Regions from separate parts of the Homo sapiens genome. Here region 1 is linked to region 2. Evidence: fine-mapped expression QTL. A gene starts in region 2. The other region holds a variant in brackets. All regions are shown on one strand. Distances are from middle to middle. Region 1 overlaps BLTP3B (bridge-like lipid transfer protein family member 3B). Region 2 holds the start of BLTP3B (bridge-like lipid transfer protein family member 3B).

Region 1 (12,060 bases), 36 kb before region 2:
GAGCTGCTATTTTACGCAATATGAGGAGGCATTAATCACATTAAAAATCTATGTCAACAATTAATGTGAACGCAAAAATAATGCAGAAATCCTGTTGTAGAAAAATCATGTATAGTTCTAGATTTAAATTTCACTGAGTGCAAAAAAGCAGACAACATATTTTTAAAAATTTAATAACTTCTAACTTTTCAAAAAGACTTTATGAAATGATCCCCATACTTCTGCTGTATTAGCATCTGATTTTCATCTATCAAAATACAACCTGTGGAAAGCAAAAACATTTTAAACTTAATGAATTTTAGAGTAACCCAAAAGGTCTGTAATTTAAGGCATCAACTTAACTCTTTGTTTTTGAGACAGAGTCTCTCTCCATCACCCAGGCTGCAGTGCAGTGGCATGAGCTCAGCTCACTGCAGCCTTGACCTCCCGGGTTCAAGCAATTCTCCTGCCTGGGCCTCCTCAGTAGCTGGGAATACAGGCGTATACCACCGCACCCAGTTTTTGTATTTTTGGTAGAGACGGGGTTTCACCATGTTGGTCAAGCTGGTGGCAAACTCCTGACCTCAGGTGATCCGCCCACCTCAGCCTCCCAAAGTGCTGGTATTACAGGCGTGGGCCACTACACCGAGCCCAACTTAACTCTTTTTTTTTTTTTTTTTGAGACGGAGTCTCGCTCTGTCACCAAGGCTGGAGTGCAATGGCGCGATCTTGGCTCACTATAACCTCCGCCTCCCGGGTTCAAGCAATTCTCCTGCCTCAGCCTCCCAAGTAACTGGGATTAAAGGTGCATGGCGCCATGCCCAGCTAAAGTTTTTTGTATTTTAGTAGAGACAGGGTTTCACCGTTTTGCCCAGGCTGGTCTCAAACACCTGAGTCCAGGGAATCCACCCGCCTCGGCCTCCCAAAGTGCTAGGATTACAGGCATGAGCCACCGCTCCCAGCCTCCCAACTTAACTCTTAAGAGTCATAAAAGTTCCACTGATGCACAGAAAATGATATGCAGAGAAACTGATCAGAGGCTATCTGATTTATATAATGCCTAAATTCTTCTGCTTCCATTTTCTGTTGCTGCTCTGCCATTAGTTAATCACTATTATTTAATAATAGCAAGGAAAGCAAGATGAATAAAGAAAGTTAAAAGTCAAATCTGCAACTTTGCAATGTATATAACTAAAATTGTAAAATGTTTGATGGGAGAGCTGACTGAAATAGAGGCCATTTGAGGTTAAGGCTTTTTTTTTTTTTTTTTTTAATGTCCTGTTATTGGCAGTCATGCAGATTAATGGAAGTAGCTTACCTTTGTCCTGAAGCAGTTGCAATTGGTGATGGGCCATTAGGGCTTCTTGGTTCTTCACATGTACTCATTTCCATTATTACTTTATCCAGGGACTAATAAAAACGTTAAAATATAAACAATTAGATTATTTATTCTACGTATATTATTAAAGTATTATTTAAGATTATTTTCTCTTTCATTTTTCTTTAGGAAGAAAGTAAAAAGTGAGCAGAGTCATTTAAGTGCCTCTCTACAGGTCTAAAAAGACAAATGCCAAAAAAGAACACAAAGCACTCAATCAGTTCTCAAGGCATTTATTATCTGGTGGAAAAGCTATGTGTATTACAGGTGTTGGGGGGTGGGGAATTAAGACATAGCCATTAACTACTAAAATCATCAGATTTCATGAAAACAGAATCTCTACTCCCAGATATATTCATTGATGAAATTATATATTAATAAGTAGGACTGAACTACCCCAAAAAGCTTATCACAATCTAAGATCTGAGCTATGAGACACAAAACTATGGGAAATATGAAATAAGCAGGAAATGTGAAAAAAAATAAACACTCCCATAATGGAAAAGGTTCTTTCTCAGGGTAATATTTTTCTCCTTGAAGAAAGATCTAATGTCCTTAATCGCCATCACTAACACTACTCCAGTCATTCTTCATTCTCTATTTCATATATAGCATTTATTATTATCTGAAACTGTCTTGTTTTATTCATGTTCTTGATCATTGTATTTTTTAAATGAACGAACAAATGATCAATTTTCTTCAACTTTCCTTAAAAAGCAAAGTATATTAAAGAACATATTTCATAATTTACTAGATCACTAAAAGGAGAAACAAAGACAGTCTGGATCAAATGTTACTGAAAGAATAATCCCATAGTACATCAACAAAGAGTTAAATGATGCAATAAAATACTATACCAATTTAGAACACAGTATTCTAGACCTGAAAAACTTTAAAGATGCTCCTACTTTAAGGTTAAAGCTTCTCATTTAAAGGATGAAAAACCTGAGTCCTATCAAAATAAAATGAAACCTAACTGGTGAAAAATCCAGACTATATTTCCATGAAACAAAAGATTACTATGAACAGAGTAGCTAGATAATGTATATATATAAATGTTTATTTCTAAAGTGGTTTCAGAACTCACCAAACAGATGGGATGTGTTTTCAGTTTTGTCCATGGGATCTACAAATGAAAAATTTTTAATTTAAGATCAATCATTAAGAAGAAAATAATGTAAACAGTAATCAATACAGGTGTTATATTAATATAGGACAGACACACCAAATTATATAAAATCACTTTTCTTAAACTACAAAATAAACTAAGCAACTCACTCATACTTTTGAAACCAGATGTACCCATTTTATTTAAGAAATTATTACTAGCTATATCTCCTCAGACATCTTTTGAATAGAAATTGTAAGTTCTTTTTTTCTTTTTTTTTTTTTTTTTTGAGACAGAGTCTCTTTCTGTTGCCCAGACTGGAGTGCAGTGGCACGATATCGGCTCACTGCAACCTCCACCTCCTGGGTTCAAGCAATTCTCGTGCCTCAGCCTCCCAGTAGCTGAGATTACAATCAAGTGCCACCACGCCCGGCTAATTTTTGTATTTTTAGTAGAGACAGTGTTTTGATATGGTGGCTAGACTGGTCTCTAACTCCTGGCCTCAAATGATCCACCCAACTCGGCCTCTCAAGGTGCTGGGATTACAGGCACGCACCACCATGCCTGGCCAATTTCAGGTTCTTTTAAGTATCTTTTTTTTTTTAACAATCCTTAAAACAAATCTTAATATCATAATTTAAATGAAGAGCTTAACAACCTGTTTAATCCTAAAATTCTGAGCAATCATTTTGTAAATATTCAAGACAAATACAAAAGTTCGGCCATTAATATAAAATGTAGGAAACATCAAATACATAATGTTGATATACCCTGTACTAAAAATGCCAAGTTTTGCCTCCAAAAGGCTCTTAGATCTAATAAATAAATTCAGTAAGGTTTAGGTTACAAAATCAACGTACACAAATTAGTAGCACTGCTACAAACCAACAAAAACCACGCTGATAATCAAATCAGGAACTCAATCCCTTTTACAATAACTACTGCTACTACAAAAAAAAAAAAAAAAAAAAAAAAAAAAATGTAGGAATATACCTAACCAAGGAGTTGAAAGATCTCCACATGGAGAACTACAAAACACTGTGGAAAATCATAGATGACATAAGCAAATGGAAATATATCCCATACTCGTGGACTGGAAGAATCTATACTGTGAAAATGACCATACTGCCCAAAGCAATCTACAAATTCAACACAATTCTTCTCAAAGTACTAACATCATTTTTCACAGAATTAGAAAAAACAATCCTAAACTTCATATGGAACCAAAAAAGAACCCAAATAGCCAAAGCAATCCTAAGCAAAAAGAACAAAACTGGAGGCATCACATTACCCAACTTCAAATTATGCAAGTCTATAGTAACCAAAACAGCATGGAACAGGTGTAAAAATAGGCACATGGACCAATGGAACAGAATAAAGTATTCTGTTTCTGTTCCATTGAACAGAATACACAGGCCAATGGAACAGAATAGAGAACCAAGAAATAAAGCCAAATACTAACAATCAACTGATCTTTGACAAAGCATACAAAAACACAAACTGGAGAAAGGACACCATATTCAATAAATGGTGCTGGAAAAAGTGGATAGCCACATGTAGAAGAATGAAATTGGATCCCTATCTCTTACTGTATACAAAAATTAACTCAAGATAAATGAAAGTTTTAAATCTAAGATCTGAAACCATAAAAACTGTGGAAGAAAACCTAGGAAAAACTCTTCTGAACGTTGGCCTAGGCAAAGAATTTATGACTGAGACCCCAAAAGCAAATGCAACAAAAATAAATGAGACCTAATTAAACTAAAACGCTTCTACACAACAAAAGAAATAATCATCTGAGTAAACTGACAACCTACGGATTGTCAATATTCACAAACTATGCATCTGACAAAGAAAATATGCACAAATTATGTGTCTGACAAAGGACTAATATTCAGAATCTACAAGGAACTCAAACAAATCAGCAAGAAAAAAAACACGCCCATTAAAAAGTGAGCAAGGACATGAACAGACATTTTGCAAAAGAAGATATACAAATGGCCAACAACCACATGAAAAAATGCTCAAAATCATTAATCATAAGGGAAATGCAAATTAAAAACACATTGAGACACCACCTTTTTCCAGCCAGAATGGCCATTACTAAAAAGTTGAAAAACAATCGATGTTGGCATGGAAGTGATGAAAAAGGAATGCTTATACACTGCTGGTAGGAATATAAGTTAGTACAACCTCAATAGAAAACAGTATAGAAATTTCTCAAAGAACTAAAAGTAGATCTACCATTCGATCCAGCAATCCCACTACCGAGTGGGTACCTATCCAAAGGAAGAGAAGTCACTATATGAAAAAGACACTGGTCCTCATTTCAAACATGACTCTATTAAAAAAAAAAAAAGACACCTGGACACATATGTCTATTGCAACACAATGCACAATTGCAAAGATATGGAATCAATCTAAGTGCCCATCAACCTATGAGTGGTTACAGAAAATGTGGTACATAAATACCATGGAATACTACTCAGCCATAAAAAAAGAGCAAAATAATGTCTTTTGCAGCAACTTGAAAAGAACTGGAGGCCATTATTCTAAGTGAAGTAACATGAATTGAAAACCAAATACCACATGTTCTTTTAAGTGTGAGGTGAACTATGGGTATGCAAAGGCATACAGAGTGGCATAATGGACTTTGAAGACTCAGAAGGTGGGTAGGGGTAGGAGAGGGATGAGGGATGAAACTACTTCCTGAGTACAATATACACTACTCAGCTGACAGATGCACTAAAATCCCAGACTTTACCACTATACAATTCACTCATGTAAACAAAAACCACTTGTATCTCTAAAGCTATTGAAATAAAAAAAAATTTACTGAAAGTGTCAAGTCTTTGTAGATATTTAGGTTTCCAAAGGATAGAACAAAAATTAAAAGTGACCATCAAAGGATATAGGAACTTTTCTATAATCTTTTCTTAGGAGCCCAAATTTTAGTTTTAGGAAACAATCAGCATGCAGTATTTCAACTAAGCAGACAACTCTTAAACAAAGCCTCATCTTTAAGACCAAGAAGTGACACAAATTGACATATGATTAAAGATAAGTAGAGGTCAGCCGGGCACGGTGGCTCATACTGTAATCCCAGCACTTTGGGAGGCAGAGGCGGGTGGTGGATCACCTGTCAGGAATTTGAGACCAGCATGGCCAACAGGATGAAACCCCATCTCTACTAAAAATACGAAAATTAGCCAGGTGTGGTGGCATGCGCCTATAATTCCAGCTACTTGGAAGGCTGAGGCAGGAGAATTGCATGAACCTGGGAGGTAGAGGCTGCAGTGAGCCAAGACGGTGCCACTGCACTCCAGCCTGGGTGACAGAGCAAGACTCCATCTCCCAAAAAAAAAAAAAAAAAAAAAAAGATAAGTAGAATAATAAGTTATAATAATAATAATAATAGGAATGATACTAACAGTAAACAGAGACCCTTAAAAATCTCAAAATGGGCTGGGCACGGGCGGATCACAAGGTGAGGAGATTGAGACCATCTCGGCCAACATGGTGAAACCCCATCTCTACTAAAATACAAAAAAATTAGCCAGACGTGGTGGCACGTGCCTGAAATCCCAGCTACTTGGGAGGCTGAGGCAGGGGAATCGCTTGAACCCGGGAGGCAGAGGTTGCAGTGAGCTGAGATTGCACCACTGCACTCCAGCCTGGTGACAGAGCAAGACTCCGTCTCAAAAAAAAATCTCAAAATGAAAAAGAAACTAATGAAGAAAAGGGATAAAACTGCAAATTTATTAGTTCTCATGTCTTCATTTGAAAAGTATTTACTCACTACTTTTTAAAAATTGTTTTGAGACAGGGTCTCACTCCGTCACCCAGGCTGGAGTGCAGTGGCACAATCATGACTCACTGCAGCCTCACCCTTCCAGACTCAACCGATCATCCTGCTTCAGCTTCCCAAGTAGCTGGGCCTACAGGCGCATGTGCTACCATGTTGGGCTATTTTTTTATTTTTATTTTTAGTATAGATGCAGTCTCATTATGTTACCCAGGCTAGTCTCAAACTCCTGGGCTCAAGCAATCCGCCTACCTCGGCCTTCCAAAGTGCTGGGATTACAGGTGTGAGCCACCATGCCCAGCAACTCACTACAAGTTTAGATTGTCCCATTTGACAATAAAACTTATGAAAAAACTATCTTTGAACATGTAC[CA/C]AATGGATGCAATTATTTTATTAACAAATTAATAATTTTGAAATATTAATGGAATCACTTTACACAAAAATTAAGATCTATAAAGTAGTTAATATATGCCTTTACACATAAGGCACACATTTATGCAAAGGTATCTTTCTTTTGAAATTATATTAATAAAAATGTTTTTACACAATTATCTAAAATTAAGTATTTTAAAAGCTAGAGCCAAAATATAGAAGGAAAACATGAAAGGCCTTCCACAAATATCAAGCCACAGATATCAAAGTCTCACCCTAATGGACGCTTTATTACAAAAAACTTTGTTGATAGCAAGCCATGTTGGCAAATCCAACATATTCTGGAGTACTTCTTCATCCAACTCCAAATTCTTCAGTTCACCTTCTCCTTTAAGGGTACTTAGATTTATCTTGTCAGGAGATAAATTTTTGGTAAATCTGAAAGAGAATACACATTGACATTTATTTATGTGTCAGTTACTATACTCCAGAGTCATTTTTTCAAATATACAGAGAACTAAAAATATAATAGGAGTGGACACAACATAATGTCCATCAACGACAAATGGATAAAGAAAATGTGGTACATATACACGATGGAGTATTATTCAGCCATAAAAAAGAATGAGATCCTGTCATTTGCAACAACATGGATGGAACTGGAGGACACTACAGTTAAGTGAAACAAACCAGGCACAGAAAGACAAACTTTACACACTCTCGTTCATTTGTGGGAGCTAAAAATTAAAACAATTGAATACATGGAGATCAAGAGTAGAAATGATGGTCACCAGAGGCTGGAAAGGGTAGTGGTGGGGAGCAGGGGTGGGAATGGGTAGTGGGTACAAAAATACAATTAGGTAGAATGAATACAATACTGATATGGTTTGGTTCTGTGTCCCCACCCAAATCTCACCTCTAATTGTAATCCCCACATGTCAGGGGAAGGAGCTGGTGGGAGGTGACTGGATCATGGGGGTAGTTTCTCATGATAGTTAGGGAGTGAGTTCTCACAAGATCTGATGATTTAAAAGTGTCTGGCAGTTTTCCTCTCTCTCTCTCTCTCTCTCTCTCTCTCTCTCTCTCTCTCTCTCTCTCTCTCTCCTGCCACCATGTAAAACATGCCTTGCTTCACCATCACCTTCCACCATGATTGTGAGTTTCCTGAGGCCTCCCCAGCCATGCAGAAGTGTAAGCCAATTAAACTTCTTTCTTCAGTCTCAGGTATGTCTTCATAGCAGTATAAAAACGGACTAAGACAGATATAGTATTCAACAGCACAACAAAGTGACTACAGTCAACAATAATTTATTGTACGTTTTAAAGTAATTGTGTAACTGGAATGTCTGTAACACAAAGAAATGATAAAGGCAGCCAGGTGCGTGGCTCACACCTATAATCCCAGCATTTTAGGAGTCTGAGGAGGGCGGATCACTTGAGGGCAGGAGTTCAAGACCAGCCTGGCCAACATGGTGAAACCTGGTCTCTACTAAAAATACAAAAATATTAGCTGGGCATGTTGGCGCATGCCTGTAGTCCCAGCTATTCAGGAGGCTGAGGTGGGAGTTTCGCTTCAGTCCAGGAGGTGGAGAATGCAGTGAGCTGAGATTGTGCCACTGCACTCCAGCCTGGGTGACACAGTGAGACCCTGTCTCAGAAAAAAAAAAAAAAAAAGATTGGAAATAGTTAATGTAAGAGTGAGCATTTTCCAAGGGTTTACTGTGTTCCAAGCTCTTGGCATACATGCGTGACTATTTCATTTAGTTCCCATGATAACCTATTAGGGTCTATACTAATTTTAACCCAATTTTTGAATAAGTAAACCTAAGGAGAAACTTGAACTTACTTGCCTAATATCACAACTAACAATGAAAATACATTACACATCTACTTTGAAATACATTCATATACATTACTTTATCTTCCAAACAACCCTAAAAAATAAAAATTACTAACTATGCCCAACAAATAATTTTTCAAAAGTGAAATTACTGAAAAAAACTAAACTACTGGCTAACAAGAGTTAGTCTTTACTTTTTTTGGAAATTAAATATAAAGCAACATTATATACTGGGTTATTCACATGCCCTACTTGTCAACAAGAATACCAATCAATAAACTCATGTTTCTCCACTGACTCCAAACCAGAATTTGAGCCAGATTCTATCTGAATTCATATCTTCTCACAGGATGTCAACTGAGAAATACAACAATCATTTAACACATGTATTTGACCAATGATGCTGAGCTGTATTACACTTGCTTCTGATCACGCTTGATTCAATACCACGACGCTTTCTCATAGAATGCCATTCCTAACCATAGATAACAAACAAAAAACCCTGCCACTTCCCTGAGGCAGAATATTAGAGCCAGAAGACAACACTCAATAAGTATTTATTGAGAATTCATTATGCAGACACACATACTGGGAAGCAGTACACTTGAGGTCCCTGCCCTTGTGGAGTTTTCAGTTTAGTTGGTGAGACGGATCAAATGGCACAACTAAGAGAGAATATAGCAGGAGTTCTAATCCAGAGCTTCTCTGAAACAGGGACTTTTGAGCTGGTATCTAAAGGAAGAGAAGTTAACTAGGCAAGGAGGAAAAGGGGGTAGGGAAAGAAAGTATTCCAAGCAGAGGAATAAAATGCATAAAGGTTCTAAGACAGGAGGGAGATGATATAAAGTGGAATTGAAAAAATATCAGAAATACTGTTATCTGTAATATTTATAGGGAAGGAAGGATGGACAACAGACTAATCTGAGTAACTCAAACAGAATATTTGACTATATATTCTAACATTTGACTATATATCCTTAGTCTTGGGCATGGAGGAATATGGGGATGGAGGTGAAGCATGGTTAGTGAAGAAATCAGGCAACACCTTGATTGGGTATGTACAAGAATGTTCATTTCAAGGATATCTACAAGAAAAAAAGAGTGAAAACAATCTAAACGTCCCAAGAGGGATACCCCATCTAATTATAATACACTATATTATTAATACATACATATCAAGTAATATATGTTGCCAGTCTTATAAAGAAATGTTTATATTATAATGTTTGATGAAAATTCAAGTCACAAAATTATGTGCTATAATTTCAAGTATGTAAAAAATGCATCATAAAATCCCATGACTACCTATGGCTGGTGGGGTTTTAGATTTTTTTTTTTTTTTTTTTTTTTTTTGCTTTTTTGAGACACGGTCTCGCTCTGTTGTCCAGGGTGGAGTGCAGTGGTGTGATCATGGCTCATTTCAACCACGACCGCCTGGACTCAGGTGATCCCACCTCAGCTTTCCAAGTAGCTGGGACCACCACACCCAGCTAATTAGTTTATTTATTTAATTTACTTTGAGACAGGGTCTCACCCTGTTGCCCAGGCTAGAGTGCAGTGGTTTGATTTTGGCTCACTGCAACCTCCACCTCCAAAGCAGTTGGGACCATGGGCACATGCCACCATGCTCAGCTAGTTTTTTGTTTTTTTTTGTTTGTTTGTTTTGTTTTGTTTTGAGACAGTCTTGCTCTGTCACCCAGGATGGAGTGCAGTGGCACAATCTCAGCTCATTGCAACCTCTGCCTTCTGGGTTCAAGCGATTCTCCTGCCTCAACCTCCTGAGAAGCTGGGATGACAGGCACGCACCACCACGCCCAGCTAATTTTTGTATTTTTAGTAGAGACGGGGTTTCACCATGTTGGTCAGGCTGGTCTCTAACTCCCGACCTTGTGATCCATCCACCTCGGCCTCCCAAAGTGCTGGCTGGGATTACAGGCATGAGCCACCGTGCCCAGCCCCAGCTAGTTATTTTTTAAAGACAGGGACTCACTATGTTGCTCAGGCTGATATCGAATCCCTGGGGTCAAGCAATCCTCCTGCCTCAGCCTCCCAAAGTGCTGGGATTACAGGTGTGAACCACCACACCCAGCCTAGATTTACTTCTCCTTATTTATACTTCTCTGTATAAGTATTCTATAACGAGCATGTACCACTTTTATAAAGACAAAAGTTCAAGGGAAACCAAAAAAGCCTGGCCTGGCAAGAGCAAAAGTGAAAAATGAGGAGGATTAAAATATATGTAATTTAGCCAGGAGCAGTGGCTCATGCTTGAAATCTCAGCAGTTTGAGAGGCCAAGGCAAGAAGATCACTTGAGCCCAAGAGTTTGAGACCAGCCTGGGCTGGTCTATATATTAGTGAGTGACTATATTAGTGAGACCCTATGTCTACAAAAAATTTAAAAAAGAATTAGCCAGGCATAGTGGAACACTCCTGTAGTCCCAGTTACTGAGGGGACTGAGCTGGGAGGATTGCTTGAGCCTGGGAGGTCAAGGCTGCAGTGATCCATAATTTTGCCACTGCACTCCAGCCTGGGTGACAGAGCCTTTGTCTCAAAGACAAAACAAAAAACAAAAATAATAGCTAACAACAGCAATAAAATTTCCAAGCAAATGAAAAAAGTAGACTTGATTTAGATTATACATTTTACAATCAATACACCATTATTAGGGTCTAAATTATGTGCACTGCACTAAGTAAACATTTAAGGGCAAAACAAAACAAAACAAAAAGGTCCATATAATCAAAGATTTATAATTTGGTTAAGGGAACAGAGAATAAATGCACAAAAAGCCAAGAATCTCAGGAGGCTGAGGCAGGAGAATTGCCTGAACCCGGGAGGCGGAGGTGGCAGTGAGCCGAGATTGCACCACTGCACTCCAGCCTGGTGACAGAGCAAGACTCCATCTCAAAAAAAAAAAAAAAAAAAGAATCTCAGCTTGCTAGGCACAGGAGCTCATGCCTGTAATCCCAGCACTCTGGGAGGCTGAGGCAAGTGGATTGCTTGAGCCCAGGAGTTCAAGACTAGCCTGGGTAACATGACAAAACCCCATCTCTACAAAAAATACAAAACTTAGCCAGGCATGGTAGCATGCATCTGTAGTCCCAGCTACCCATGAGGCTAAGGTGGGGGGATCACCTGGGCCCAGGAGGTCGAGGTTGCAGTGAACCATGATAGCACCACTGCACTCCAGCCTGGATGACAGAGTAAGACCCTGTCACACACACAAAAAGAATCTCATCTCGGCCGGGTGCGGTGGCTCATGCCTGTAATACCAGCACTTTGGGAGGCTGAGGTGGCTGGATCACCTGAGGTCAGGAGTTCGAGACCATCCTGGCCAACGTGGCGAAACCTCGTCCCTACTAAAAATACAGAAAAATTAGCTGGGTGTGGATCCCAGCTACTCTGGAGGCTGAGACAGGAGAATCACTTGAACCCAGGAGGCAGAGGTTGCAGTGAGCTGAGATTGCCCCACTGCACTCCAGCCTGGGAGACAGAGTAAGACTCTGTGTAAAAAAAAAATCTCATCTCAACAAGAGGTAAAATGCTATCTACTGCTTACTATTTAACCTATATCTC
Region 2 (12,060 bases):
TAAGCCACGGCGCCCAGCCTCAGATAGCTTTTCCTAAACCAGATCTACTTCACTTCTAAAATCTTAAACTTCAATGTGACAGTTTCAGACAAAATCTCCAACCCTTCCAATTATCTCATTCCTTTACTCCATTACTTTTCCACCTAGATAGCATTCCCAATCCTTTGACGGTTCTTTCCTTTTCTCTCCAGGCTATCAGCTACCGCCCTCTCCTCCCCTTCCTTATATATCCTCAATCTAGTGGCCAATCCCATCAACACAAAGTGAGGCACTCTAATCCCTCTCATCACTTTGCCATTCAGGCACCAAATCCTGCATGTGTTTAACCCTTCTGAATGTCCATAATGAATATTCTTTTTTTCTTTTTTGAGACCAGGTTATGAGACTGGCTAATTTTTGTATTTGGGGTAGAGACAGAGTTTTCATCATGTTTCCCAGACTGATCTCAAACTGCTGGGCTCAAGTGATCTGCCTGACTTGGCCTCCCAAAGTGCTTGGATTACAGGCATGAGCCACCACACCTGGCCCCATTTTCTACTTAAGTTACTCAGAGTCCATTTGTAGACTCCGTATTTCCACCCCAGATATTGCTCCTAAACCCTAGACTTCAAAAATAAGACTGCTTTAATGAGCATATCCCTCTTACCTTTATTAGTAGTCACTCCTCACCCCCAGGATAAAGTTCAATTTCCTTAATGTAGCAAATGAGGCCCTTGGAAATCTAATTTAGTGCACTGCCTATTACAGATGACTAATGGAGCAACAAGCCTAACTCAAAATAGCCCTCTCCATTACCATATTTTTGCTGTACAACCCTTTGCCATTGCTAATTGAACCATGGGTAGACAAAACTGGGTCACAAAGGCTTTCTCTCTAGGGGATTCTGAAACCTGACAGGAGAGATCAAAGACTGGGAATTATGGAAGATAGGCCAGCACTCTAAAGCTGTAGCTCCCAACCAGGAGTAATTTTGCCTCCTATGAGACATTTGGCAATGTCTGGAGACATTAAACATCCTACAATGCACAGAACAGCCTTCACAACAAAGAACTATCTATTTCAAAATGCCAATGATGCCAAGGTTAAAAAACCCTGCTGCTACTTTAAGAGGAAGGTCCAAGAACTCTTCCAATGAGATTCTAGGAGCTAGCTGGTTCCTGTTCTTTCCTTGATTTGGTTGTTCAGATATTCTTCTGCTTTCTGTTACATTTCCCTTTTTACTTAAATAGATCAGCTTTCTGATGTTTGCAGGCAAAACAACTTTACTAGCACAGAACCCTAGCTCAATCATACGACACACACCTGTACACTTTAAGCTGGTTTCTCAATCTCGGAACTACTGACATTTGGGCAAATAATTATTTGTTGTGAGGGAATATGCTGTGCAATGTAGAACGTCTAGCAGCATCCCTGGCCTCTATTCACTAGATGGCAGTAGTATTACCCTCCCCTCCAAGTCTTGACAATTAAAAATATCTCCAGACACTGCCAAATGTCACCTCAAGACAAACTGACCCTGGTTGACAACTGCTGCTTTAAACTATACGATGACTCCACCGAGGTGAGGTGAATGTCTGCCCAGTCAACTCCCACTCCCAGGAAACCTTGTGCAGAGCACAGTATGCCCTTAGCCTAAGGGAGCGAAGGAGAAGAGAGTGTCTGTATCCAAAACTTCCCTACCCCTTTTCAGGTCCTGGCTTAATTAAATATACGTCCACTTTGCCGATTTGCAAGCGCCTGTTCACAGGTGTGTACATGTGTATACACATACACATACACACACACACACACACACTAATGTCTTGAGCTGAAAGGTAGCTTCTGCTTTTATTTCCTTTCTCACATTTGTTACGACTTCTCTTTAGAAGTTTCCATTCCCATGTGAAAAACTACTCTCCTAGAAAACCCTCCCAAAATACATTCAGTCCTATTACAGTTTGAAAAATCGGGGCAGTTTCTCCTTCAAAAGCTTTTCCTGTTTCACTCTGGAAAAATGTCACTACTCTAAGCTCCCCCATCCCACCAACACACCTCCTTGTCCTCATTTCAGATTCTTCAAGTAGATAAACTTTTTATTAACAACTGGAGAGATGTTTGGAATACAAACTAACAATTAGGCAAGGAACAAGTATATAGATTTACAGTTCTCAAATAGTTTAGCATTGAGTTAAAGAATCTGTTAATCTCTTAAGAACAATTCCTCTTCCATACTTTCCCAACATACCAGCTTCTCAAGTCCCTTCATCCAGGCAAAGATGGTTTTAATCTTGCAACTGCACTATATTTCAACCTCAAGGCTAAAAATGAGAGCTCTTTCTCATGTTGGTTCACAGTCTTCCTCCTTACTGGCAGAACTCCTCCCCCCATACAATAACTGGGTTATTTCCTTACCGGAAGACCCCTCATATAAACCCCTGTAAGAACTAGGTCATTTTCCTAGTTATTTTCCAGGATCCAAAGGCACCACATTTATTTAATGATTCAATTACTCACTGCCTCCTAAAGCCACAGGGAAACTGGTCATTCCCAAATCTATAAGAATATTGGCAGTAGTCTTGCCTCAGTAAAAAAAAGCAATGTAAGAGAAAGTAAGCTCATTCATGTTATGTATCCACATTCATGCAACAAATAGTTGTTGAGTACCTACTTTATGCCAGCCTCAAGACAAAAATCCCTGCTCTCATAGAGTCTACATTTAAGTGGAGAAAGACAAAAATACATAAAGAAATAAATATGTACGACAGACAAGCATGAGTGCTATGGAGAAAAATAATGCAAGCAAGAGGACTGGCAATATGGGGGCTCACAATTTTAAACTCTGTGGTCAGGAAAGGTCACCTTTGAGAAGGTGCAATGGGTTGCATACACAGGCCTCACATGATGTCTAGTATTAGAAACTAGTATGTTCAACTATTTCCTGGTAAACTATATTCTACTGTATCCCAGACCACTAGGTCAATGTAGTGACATCTTCATTACTGGATATTCTATAAAATTAAACTTGAACCAGGTAATTTCAAAAGTTCATTCCTTCCTGAGTAACTATAATTTATCACAACACCTGCCTTCTTTTGTCAATTACGAGCTGCCTTTAGATTTCTGAATAACTATTTTTCTTAGGAGATGACAGCAATTAGCAGTAAGATTAACTTATTAACCAAAAATAAAAATTTGATACTCTTTAGTCACCTGAGTTAAGGATGTTTTGAAATATGAAATAACTGAAAACTCAAGTGTCCCAAAAACTCATCTCTGAAAAAAAAAAAAATCCTCATCACACTATTTATCACACAGCTATTACAAATCATACAGATTTAGAAACTAACCCTAAGGGCCAGGCACGGTGGCTCACACCTGTAATCCCAGCACTTTGGGAGGCCAAGGCAGGCGGATCACCTGAGGTTGGGAGTTTGAGACCAGCCTAACCACCATGGAAAAACCCTGTCTCTACTAAAAATACAAAATTAGCCAGGCGTGGTGGCGCATGCCTGTAATCCCAGCTACTCGGGAGGCTGAGGCAGGAGAACTGATTGAAGCCAGGAGGCAGAGGCTGCCGTGAGCCGAGATCATGCCATTGCACTCCAGTCTGGGAAACAGAGTGAGACTCTGTCTCAAAAAAAAAAAAAAAAAAAAAAAAAATATATATATATATATATATATATAAAATAAAATAAAAACTAGCCCTAAAGACTCAATTTTCAATATATGGGTGTTTTCTATCTCATGCAGTAAGCCATTACATCTTTGTTCTTAATTTTTTTTATTATACTTTGGTATGCATGCTCTTAATTTTTAAGAGCCCCTCTCAAATGGAGTTCTATAAAAGAATTAAACTCTAATGCACTATCTGTTGATTGAATTAACTTTTCTTCCAAGCATCTAGAGTGGTACTAGCTATGCAGCATCATCCTTGGACGAGTGAGAAAGTAGGCATTCAAATCATTTTCTGCAGATCTGTATTTTCTTGTGGAGCTGGGTATGAGAAAGGCGGGAGGACATAAATTAAAAATAGATAAAACCTTCCAAAATAAGATAGTTCAAGATTGGGCCATATATATAATTTTAAAAGAAACTTTTCAATGAGTGATAACATTAAGAAATACATATTCATGCAGGGCGTGGGGGCTCACACCTGTAATCCCAGCACTCTGGGAGGCCGAGGACCGCGGATCACCTGAGGTTGGGAGTTCAAGACCAGCCTGGCCTGGTGAAACCCAGTCTCTACTAAAAAAATACTACATATATACACATATATATGTGTAGTGTATACACATATATATGTAGTACACATATATATGTATGTGTATATATGTGTATATATGTATATGTATATATGTACATATGTATATATATGTACACACACACACACACGCTGCTATACTTTGCTACTTTTAAGAAAAGTGCTATATCTTATTCAGTATTATAAGTGAGGAAAATATTTGCTGAATCACAGAAGTAGAATTCTGTTCCCAATATATAACCTGTGGTATAAGACAATCTGGGGAATCAAGAATTATGTTTACTATACAAGTCTATAATCATACCCGTGTCTTCCCAAAATTAGTTAAAATTAACTTACAAATCGAACAGAAAGGGATCCTAACCAAGGGCTTTGAGTTCGCTGGTAACAACTTGGAACAAGAGCCTACATTTAGCCTGTGTCTTGAGACAAACACGGAGAAGCCAAGAGCAGTAACAAACTGCCAGCCTTACTGAGTCATGTTTCTGACTAAAACCGCGTTATGAAATGGAGAGAATGACATGTCTTGGGTTTAATCACCACAGATGTTAACTCCCTGAATTTTAGAGTTGCAGAGGAAAAAGAGCAAAAACCAAAAAAAAAAAATGTTCAGTAATAATGATGTGGGTCTCATAGGACTCCAGAAAGAACCTGCCAAAGCTGCGAACTCTGCTTATTTACCTAAAACAAATCCTAACTGTGCAAACAGGCACACCCTCTGATGCCACAGAGCGGGAACGCCAAGGTGGGAGGAATTCAGAACAATCACAAGGTTAACGTTCCACTGAGAACACAGCCTCCACTGAGCGTCCACACTGCGCCAGAAGCCCTCGGTTAACGGAACCGCTCTGCTCCAAGGGGAAGGAGCACCGAACTCGAGTTAGAGCCCAGCACATTAACCAGGCACTTGGGTGACGCCAGGCCACCTCCAGCCTCCGCTCAGTACCGCACAGAGCCGAGCCGGGACGCCCCCAGACGCCGCGCCGGGAGCGATCCCAGCCCGCCGCGCTCCGCACTCCGGGCTCCTCCGCGCGCCCACCCTGGGAGAAGACGCGTCAGGGGCCGATTCGTGAGGCCAGCCCCCGGCGCCGCCGGCGACAAGAGATCCGGGGCCGCGACCTCTGCCCCGGCCAGAGCGGGGAAGTCCGAAGGTCGCCTCCCGCACAGCCGCCAGGCGCCGCCGCCCCCGAAGCCGCAGGCTGACTCCAGTGCGGGCTGGGGTGGAGGCCGACTGGCGCCGACACCGAGGCGCTCACTGACCTGGAGAGGTGCTTCAAGATTTGTTTCTTGATGATCCCGGCCATGGTACCGAGGCTGGAGACGCCGCGGTCTCGTCCTGTTGCTCACTGCCTCCTCTCTTCGTGGCCGTCTCCTCTCTGTCCCGGCTAGCCCGGCCGGCGGAGAGGCGCTGATCGCTCACGACCGGGAGAGACCCAAGGCCCCGGCCAAGGCCACAGCCGCCGCCGAGAACCCGGAGCATCACGCTCAGGCCGCCACGGCCGCCGCGGGCGCCATCTTGGCTGCAGCATCACCTAAGAGACTCGGTGGAGGGCGGGGGCGGGGCGGCTCCAGGCGGGGCCGGCACGAGGCGGGGCGGGGCCAACGCCGGCTCTGGGCGGGCTCTGGGCGGGCTCTGGCTGGGCTCTGGCTGGGCTCTGGGCGGGGGCGGGAGGTTTGTGGCATTGGCGCCAGGGTTCTTAGCCCTCGCGACACAGGGCCCTTGACTCTCAATACACCATCCTTCTTGGCCTTAATCCTCCCTCCTTCCCTCTGCTGGTGTTCCCGCCTCCATCGCTGACCCGTCGCTGATTTTTACTTCCACGTCCTACTTCCCTTATTCATTTCCTCAGAATGTTTTTTATTTTTTTGCTTGTTTGTTTTTTTTTTTGAGACAAGTCTTGCTCTGTCACACAGGCTGGAGTCCAGTGGTACGATCTCGGCTCATTGCAACCTCCACCTCCAGGGTTCAAGCGATTCTCCTGCTTCAGCCTCCTGAGTAGCTGGGATTACAGGTGCGCACCACCACGGCCGGCTAATTTTTGTATTATTAGAGACGAGGTTTCACCATATTGGCCAGTAGGTCTCGAACTTCTCACCTCGTGATCCACCCTCCTAGCCTCCCAAAGTGCTGACATTACAGGCGTGAGCCACTGCACCCGGCCTCCTTAGAATGTTTTAAGAATCGGCCATTAACTCCTGTGCTTGCTTTGCTCTCTTGACCTACTCACCTTTCTTCATATTCTTCCTTAGGTTTTTGTTTTTGGTGTTTTTTTTTTTTCTTTTGTTAAGGTGTCCTGCCTTTCCCTTACCTAAATGTGGCAATTTAATGTTTCCTTTGGTTATTGCTATTCTAAGGGAAGTAAAGGTTGACAATGGTTCCTAGTAGTCTAGGACCTAGGAATTAGAAGGTGTATAATTCAAGTCCTGGCTCTGGTATTTTCTAGCTGTGTTATCCTGGGGAAAATAATTTCTTTACTATTAGTTTCATTTTAATCATCTGTGAAATAGATTAATCATCAGCCTTACCCACTTCACTAGGTTGAACCTAAAGGTGTAAATATCATATGAAAAGTTCTGTAAGGAAGGAAGGAAATTGTTGAACTAGGGAAAACTGTTACAATTCTACACCTCCACCCCACCCAATCCCAAACAGAGCTAACATTTTCAGAGATTAAAATGACGACTTCTGTCATCCCAGCACTTTGGGAGGCCGAGGCAGGCAGATCACTTGAGGTCAGGAGTTCAAGACCAGCCTGACCAACATGGTGAAACTCTGTGTCTACAAAAAAAAAATACAAAAATTAGCTGGGCATAGTGGCGGGCGCCTGTAATCCCAGCTACTCAGGAGGCTGAGGCAGGAGAATTGCTTGAACCCGGGAGGCAAATGTTGCAGTGAGCTGAGATCAAGCCACTGCACTCCAGCCTGGGCGACAGAGCAAGACTGTCTCAAAAAAAAAAAAAATTACTCAGTGTTAAGTCAAGTTTAGCCTAACACTGCCTCCTTACGTAATTGAGTTCAGCCTAAAGGTTTTTCTGTACATCATGAACTTATGAAAATAAGCAGAGGTATAAACCGACCATAGCCCACACCTGTGCCAATCACTGAGTTTTGGCCAGATGTAGCCAACTGTTCAGACTGTGTTCAAATAAGGCAAACACTGAGCTGTAAGCAATCCAGTTGTTTCTGTACCTCACTTCCATTTTCTAGACCTCACTTTCCTTTTGCTGGCCAGAAATCTGCTCCCAGCATGTGGCTGTGCTGGAGTCTCTCTGAATCTGCTGTGATTATGGGGGCTGCCAGACTCAGGAATCGTTCATTGTTAAACTCCTTTAAATTTAATTTGGCTGAAGTTTTTCTTTTAACACTAGTGATATCTAAAACAGGAAAAGAAATTGTACCACCCCTGAGGGATGTATTAGCAAGATGTGTGGTTGTACATCTTGGGAGTTGGGTGGGAAGTAGTTTACACATAGTCCAATAAGCTGGCCCTTTTTGAAGAATGGAAAGGATAGACGTGTAAGTTGACTACACTCAACATTTCATTTTATTTTTATTTTATTTTTGAGACAGTCTTACTCCATCGCTCAGGCTGGAATGCAGCAGCACGATCTTGGCTCGCTGCGACCTCCGCCTCCCAGGTTCAATCAGTTCTCCTGCCTCAGCCTCCCAAGTAGCTGGGATTACCAGGCTAATTTTTGTATTTTTAGTAGAGACGGAGTTTCACCATGTTGGCCAGGCTGGTCTCGAACTCCTGACCTCACGTGATCCGCCCGCCTCAGCCTTCCAAAGTGTTGGGATTACAGGCATCAGCCACCACACCCAGCTGACTACACTCAACATTTATCATAGATTATAAACCAGGCACTATTCAAGTATCCTGGGGTTGCCTAAATGAAAACAAAAATCTCTGTTCCTGCCATCAGAGTTAACGGCCTGGCTTGGAAGGCAGACTCATGTTACTTACACCTTCAGCTCTGTTAGTAGACTCTGGTTCAAATGCTGGCCACTTTATAACTGTGTAAACTTCAGCAAATTAATCTTTCTCAGCTTCAGTGATCTCATGTGTTAAGAGATATTATTATTAGTAGCTACTGTTAACCTGCCTTATAGCAAACTCAATAAAGGCTAGGTATTATTAATTACTTTACCAAAAACAAGCAAAGTGCTATAAGAACACAGAGGAAGGAGTAATTCATTTGGGGACAGACTTATAGTAGAGGTATTATTTCAAAGATATGAATAAATCCATTTAATTTTTTTAAAAAAATGGACCCTGAAATCAAAGACTTGGATTTAAAACTGAAGCAGGAGGGTTCCCTGACTTCACTCGCAGGACTAACACTAATGCACGAAGTACACAGGGGGGTGGCTCATCTGCTTGGCTACCGAGCACATGCAAACCCCTAATAGGACAGGGAGCACACAGATGGGCAAGTGCAGAAGCCGGAGCAAGGACTTTTGAACTCTGGCCCCATGGTAGCGTCTAGGGGTGGGTAACTGCAACTCCTGAAGCCCAAGTGGGCATGCGTTACACTGCACTCTTTTAGCTTTGTTGTCCACAGATAGCTTAAGTGTTAACTAGCTCAGTGCCCTCTTAGTATCCAGGTCATTGTCAGGCATCCAGAAAGAGGTCACACAGGGACTTGAAGGACGGTGAATGTGGGGTTTTATTGAGTGGTAGAGGTGGCTCTCAACAGGATGGATGGGAAGCTGGAAAGGGGATGGAGTGGGAAGATGATCTTCCCCTGGAATTTGGCCATCCAGTGGCCAAACTCTTCTCAGCGTTCAGTCACTACTTCTCTTGTCTCTGCTGCACTGGTCTGCCATTCTTCTGCTCATCTGTTCATCTCCTTGTCTGCTCATCTGCTTGTGGAGCCTGGGGTTTGGGCTTTCTATGGATACAAGATAGGGTGCTGTGGCAGGCCAAAAGGCAACTTTTGAGCACAAAAACAGAAATGCCTGTTCCCATTTAGGACGGTGGGTTTCCAGGCTTGAGAGTAGGGCATTTGCCAGGGAACCACTCTGTTCTACCCAGTATTTCCCTGTCTCCTGTCCATATCAAAACTGAACTCTGCAGATATTTAGCTATGCTGGTTGTGGTAGGGTGACCCCCAAATTGGGGTTCAGGCTGGGAGGCTACTTGGGTTCCTGCCTTCTGCAGGAAAGAATTCAAGACCAAGCTGACAAGAGTAAAGTGAAACCAAGTTTGTTAAGAAAGTAAAGAAATAAAAGGATAGCTACGCCATAAGCAGAGTAGCAGCATGGGCTGCCCAACTATACTTATGGTTATTTCTTGATTATATGCTAAACAAAGGGTACATATTCATGAGTTTTCTAGTAAGGGTGCAGGGAGTTCCTGGAACTGAGAGTTCCTCCCCCTTTCAGATCATATAGGGTAATTTCTCCATGTTACCATGGCATTTGTAAACTGTCATGGCCCTGATGGGAGTTTCCTTTAGTATGCAAATATATTATAATTAGTGTTTAATGAGCAGTGAGGATGACCAGAGGTTGCTTTCATGACCATCTTGGTTTTGATGGGTTTTGGCCAGCTTCTTTACCTCATCCTGTTTTATCAGTGACAAAGGAGAAAGTCAAAATATTTTACCCCAAAACATGTTTCTTTGCCATATTTTGAAATGGTCCTGCAAAGCCATTCTTTGTGGGGGAAAATTTGCATCTATAAAGAATCTCTATTAACATAGTTAGGTTTTTTTCTTACAGGCCCTCTCAATCCTGAAGAGATTAACTAAGAGTCTATCACCTTTTAAAGGTCTGAATACGAAACATTTGTCATCTATTGTCTCTAAGGGCAGCCACATTAAGACTTCAAAAGAACTTTGGTCTCCACGATCTTTTATCTTAACCAGATCATCCAGGTCTTTAGACAAAGTCAACCAATTGTCAACCAGAAAATGTTTAAATTTACCTATAGCCTGGAAGCTCCCCTCCTTTGACTTGTCTTGCCCTTCTGGACCAAACCAATGTATTTCATTTTTTCGAGATGGAGTCTTGCTCTGTCGCCAGGCTGGAGTGCAGTGGCGCAATCTCAGCTTACTGCAACCTCTGCCTCCTGGGTTCAAGCGATTCTTCTGCCTCAGCCTCCTAGGTAGCTGGGACTACAGGCGCATACCACTACACCCAGCTAATTTTTGTATTTTTAGTAGAGACAGGGTTTCACCATGTTGGCTAGGATGGTCTCAATCTCCTGACCTTGTGATCTACCTGCCTCGGCCTCCCAAAGTGCTGGGATTACAGGCGTGAGCCACCGCGCCTGGCCAAACCAATATATATATATATTTTTGAGATGGAGTCTCACTCTATTGCCCAGGCTGGAGCACAGTAGTGCGATCTTAGCTCACTGCAACCTCTGCCTCTGGGTTCAAGCAATTCTTCTGCCTCAGCCTCCCGAGTAGCTGGGACTACAGGTACGCGCCACCACACCCAGCTAATTTTTTGTATTTTTAGTAGAGACTGGGTTTCACCATATTGGCCAGGCTGGTCTCGAACTCCTGACCTCATGATCCGCCTGCCTCGGCCTCCCAAAATGCTAGGATTACAGGCGTGAGCCACCAGGCCTGGCCAAACCAATGTATTTTTTTTTTTTTTTTTTTTTTGAGATGGAGTCTCGCTCTGTCCCCAGGCTGGAGTGCAGTGGCACGATCTCAGCTCACTGCAACCTCCGTCTCCCGGGTTCACGCCATTCTCCTGCCTCAGCTTCCTACGTAGCTGGGACTACAGGCGCCCGCCACCATGCCCAGCTAATTTTTTTTGTATTTTTAGTAGCGACGGGGTTTCACCGTGTTAGCCAGGATGGTCTCGATCTCCTGACCTCATGATCTGCCCGCCTCAGCCTCCCAAAGTGCTGGGATTACAGGCATGAGCCACCGCGCCCGGCCAAACCAATGTATTTCTTAAATGTATTTGATTGATGTCTGTGCCTCCCTAAAATGTATAAAACCAAGCTGCACTCCTACCACCTTGGGCACATGTTCTCAGGACCTCCTGAGCGCTGTGTCATGGGCCATGGTCACTCATTTCGCTCAGAATAAATCTCTTCAAATAGTTTATAGACTTTGATTCTTTTTGTCCACAAGGATAGTTTGAAATCAGCCATGATGACAGTATTTACAACATAGAAAGCAGGGCTTTTTCCCCTAGAGATCTAGTTGTTAAGCATTCACCAGCACAAGACTATAAAATGAGTTTAGGCTGGGCGCGGTGGCTCAGGCCTATAATCCCAACACTTTGGGAGGCCGAGGCTGGTGGATCACTTGAGGTCAGGAGTTAGAGACCAGCCTGGCCAACATGGTGAAACTCTGTCTCTACTAAAATTACAAAAAATTAGCTGGGCATGGTGGCGGGTGCCTGTAATCCCAGCTACTTGGGAGGCTGAGGCAGAAGAATTGCCTGAACCCAAGAGATGGAGGTTGTAGTGAGCCAAGACTGCGCCACTGCACTCTAGCCTGGGCAACACGAGCGGAACTCCGCCTCAAAAAAAAAAAAAAAAATTGGAGGGAGATGAGATTGTAAATGTAAATATATAGACATCATTTTATAGGAAATAGTGAGTCCTGAAGACCTCTATGATGGGTTAATTGGGGAAGATGTTCATATTTCTGAGTCAGAAAAATATTTACAGACAATTTTGCTGTCAGTTCAGAGGATGGAGAACAGAATGGAGGCAGAAAGGGCATTGAGAAGGTGGTGGCATTATTTCAGGTGAGAGGTAAGACAGTATCAGTAGAGGTGAAAGAAGGTAAAGGACACATGCCAAAGATTAAATCAAGGATAAATATTGAAGGTAATTGAGGTTTTT

What was found.
Region 1: its variant is fine-mapped to the expression of BLTP3B in whole blood (INTERVAL, PIP 0.98).

What each region holds. Positions count from the first base shown.
Region 1 is chr12:100,101,469-100,113,528 of GRCh38, forward strand. It overlaps BLTP3B (bridge-like lipid transfer protein family member 3B), which reads right to left. Exons shown (of 21, transcript NM_015054.2): 2 at 6,918-7,080; 3 at 2,445-2,483; 4 at 1,298-1,389. Among named protein-coding and RNA genes, the nearest start is that of BLTP3B, 35 kb to the right of the region's middle. The variant CA/C (reference allele first, on the strand shown) is at 6,643.
Region 2 is chr12:100,137,092-100,149,151 of GRCh38, forward strand. BLTP3B (bridge-like lipid transfer protein family member 3B) reads right to left here and starts at 5,783. Exons shown (of 21, transcript NM_015054.2): 1 at 5,501-5,783. The coding sequence starts at 5,544. It overlaps BLTP3B-DT (BLTP3B divergent transcript), which reads left to right and starts at 5,964. Exons shown (of 2, transcript NR_186018.1): 1 at 5,964-6,252; 2 at 7,449-7,580. RefSeq lists silencers at 1,660-1,809, 5,198-5,447, 5,768-5,947 and enhancers at 5,328-6,091, 9,504-10,312.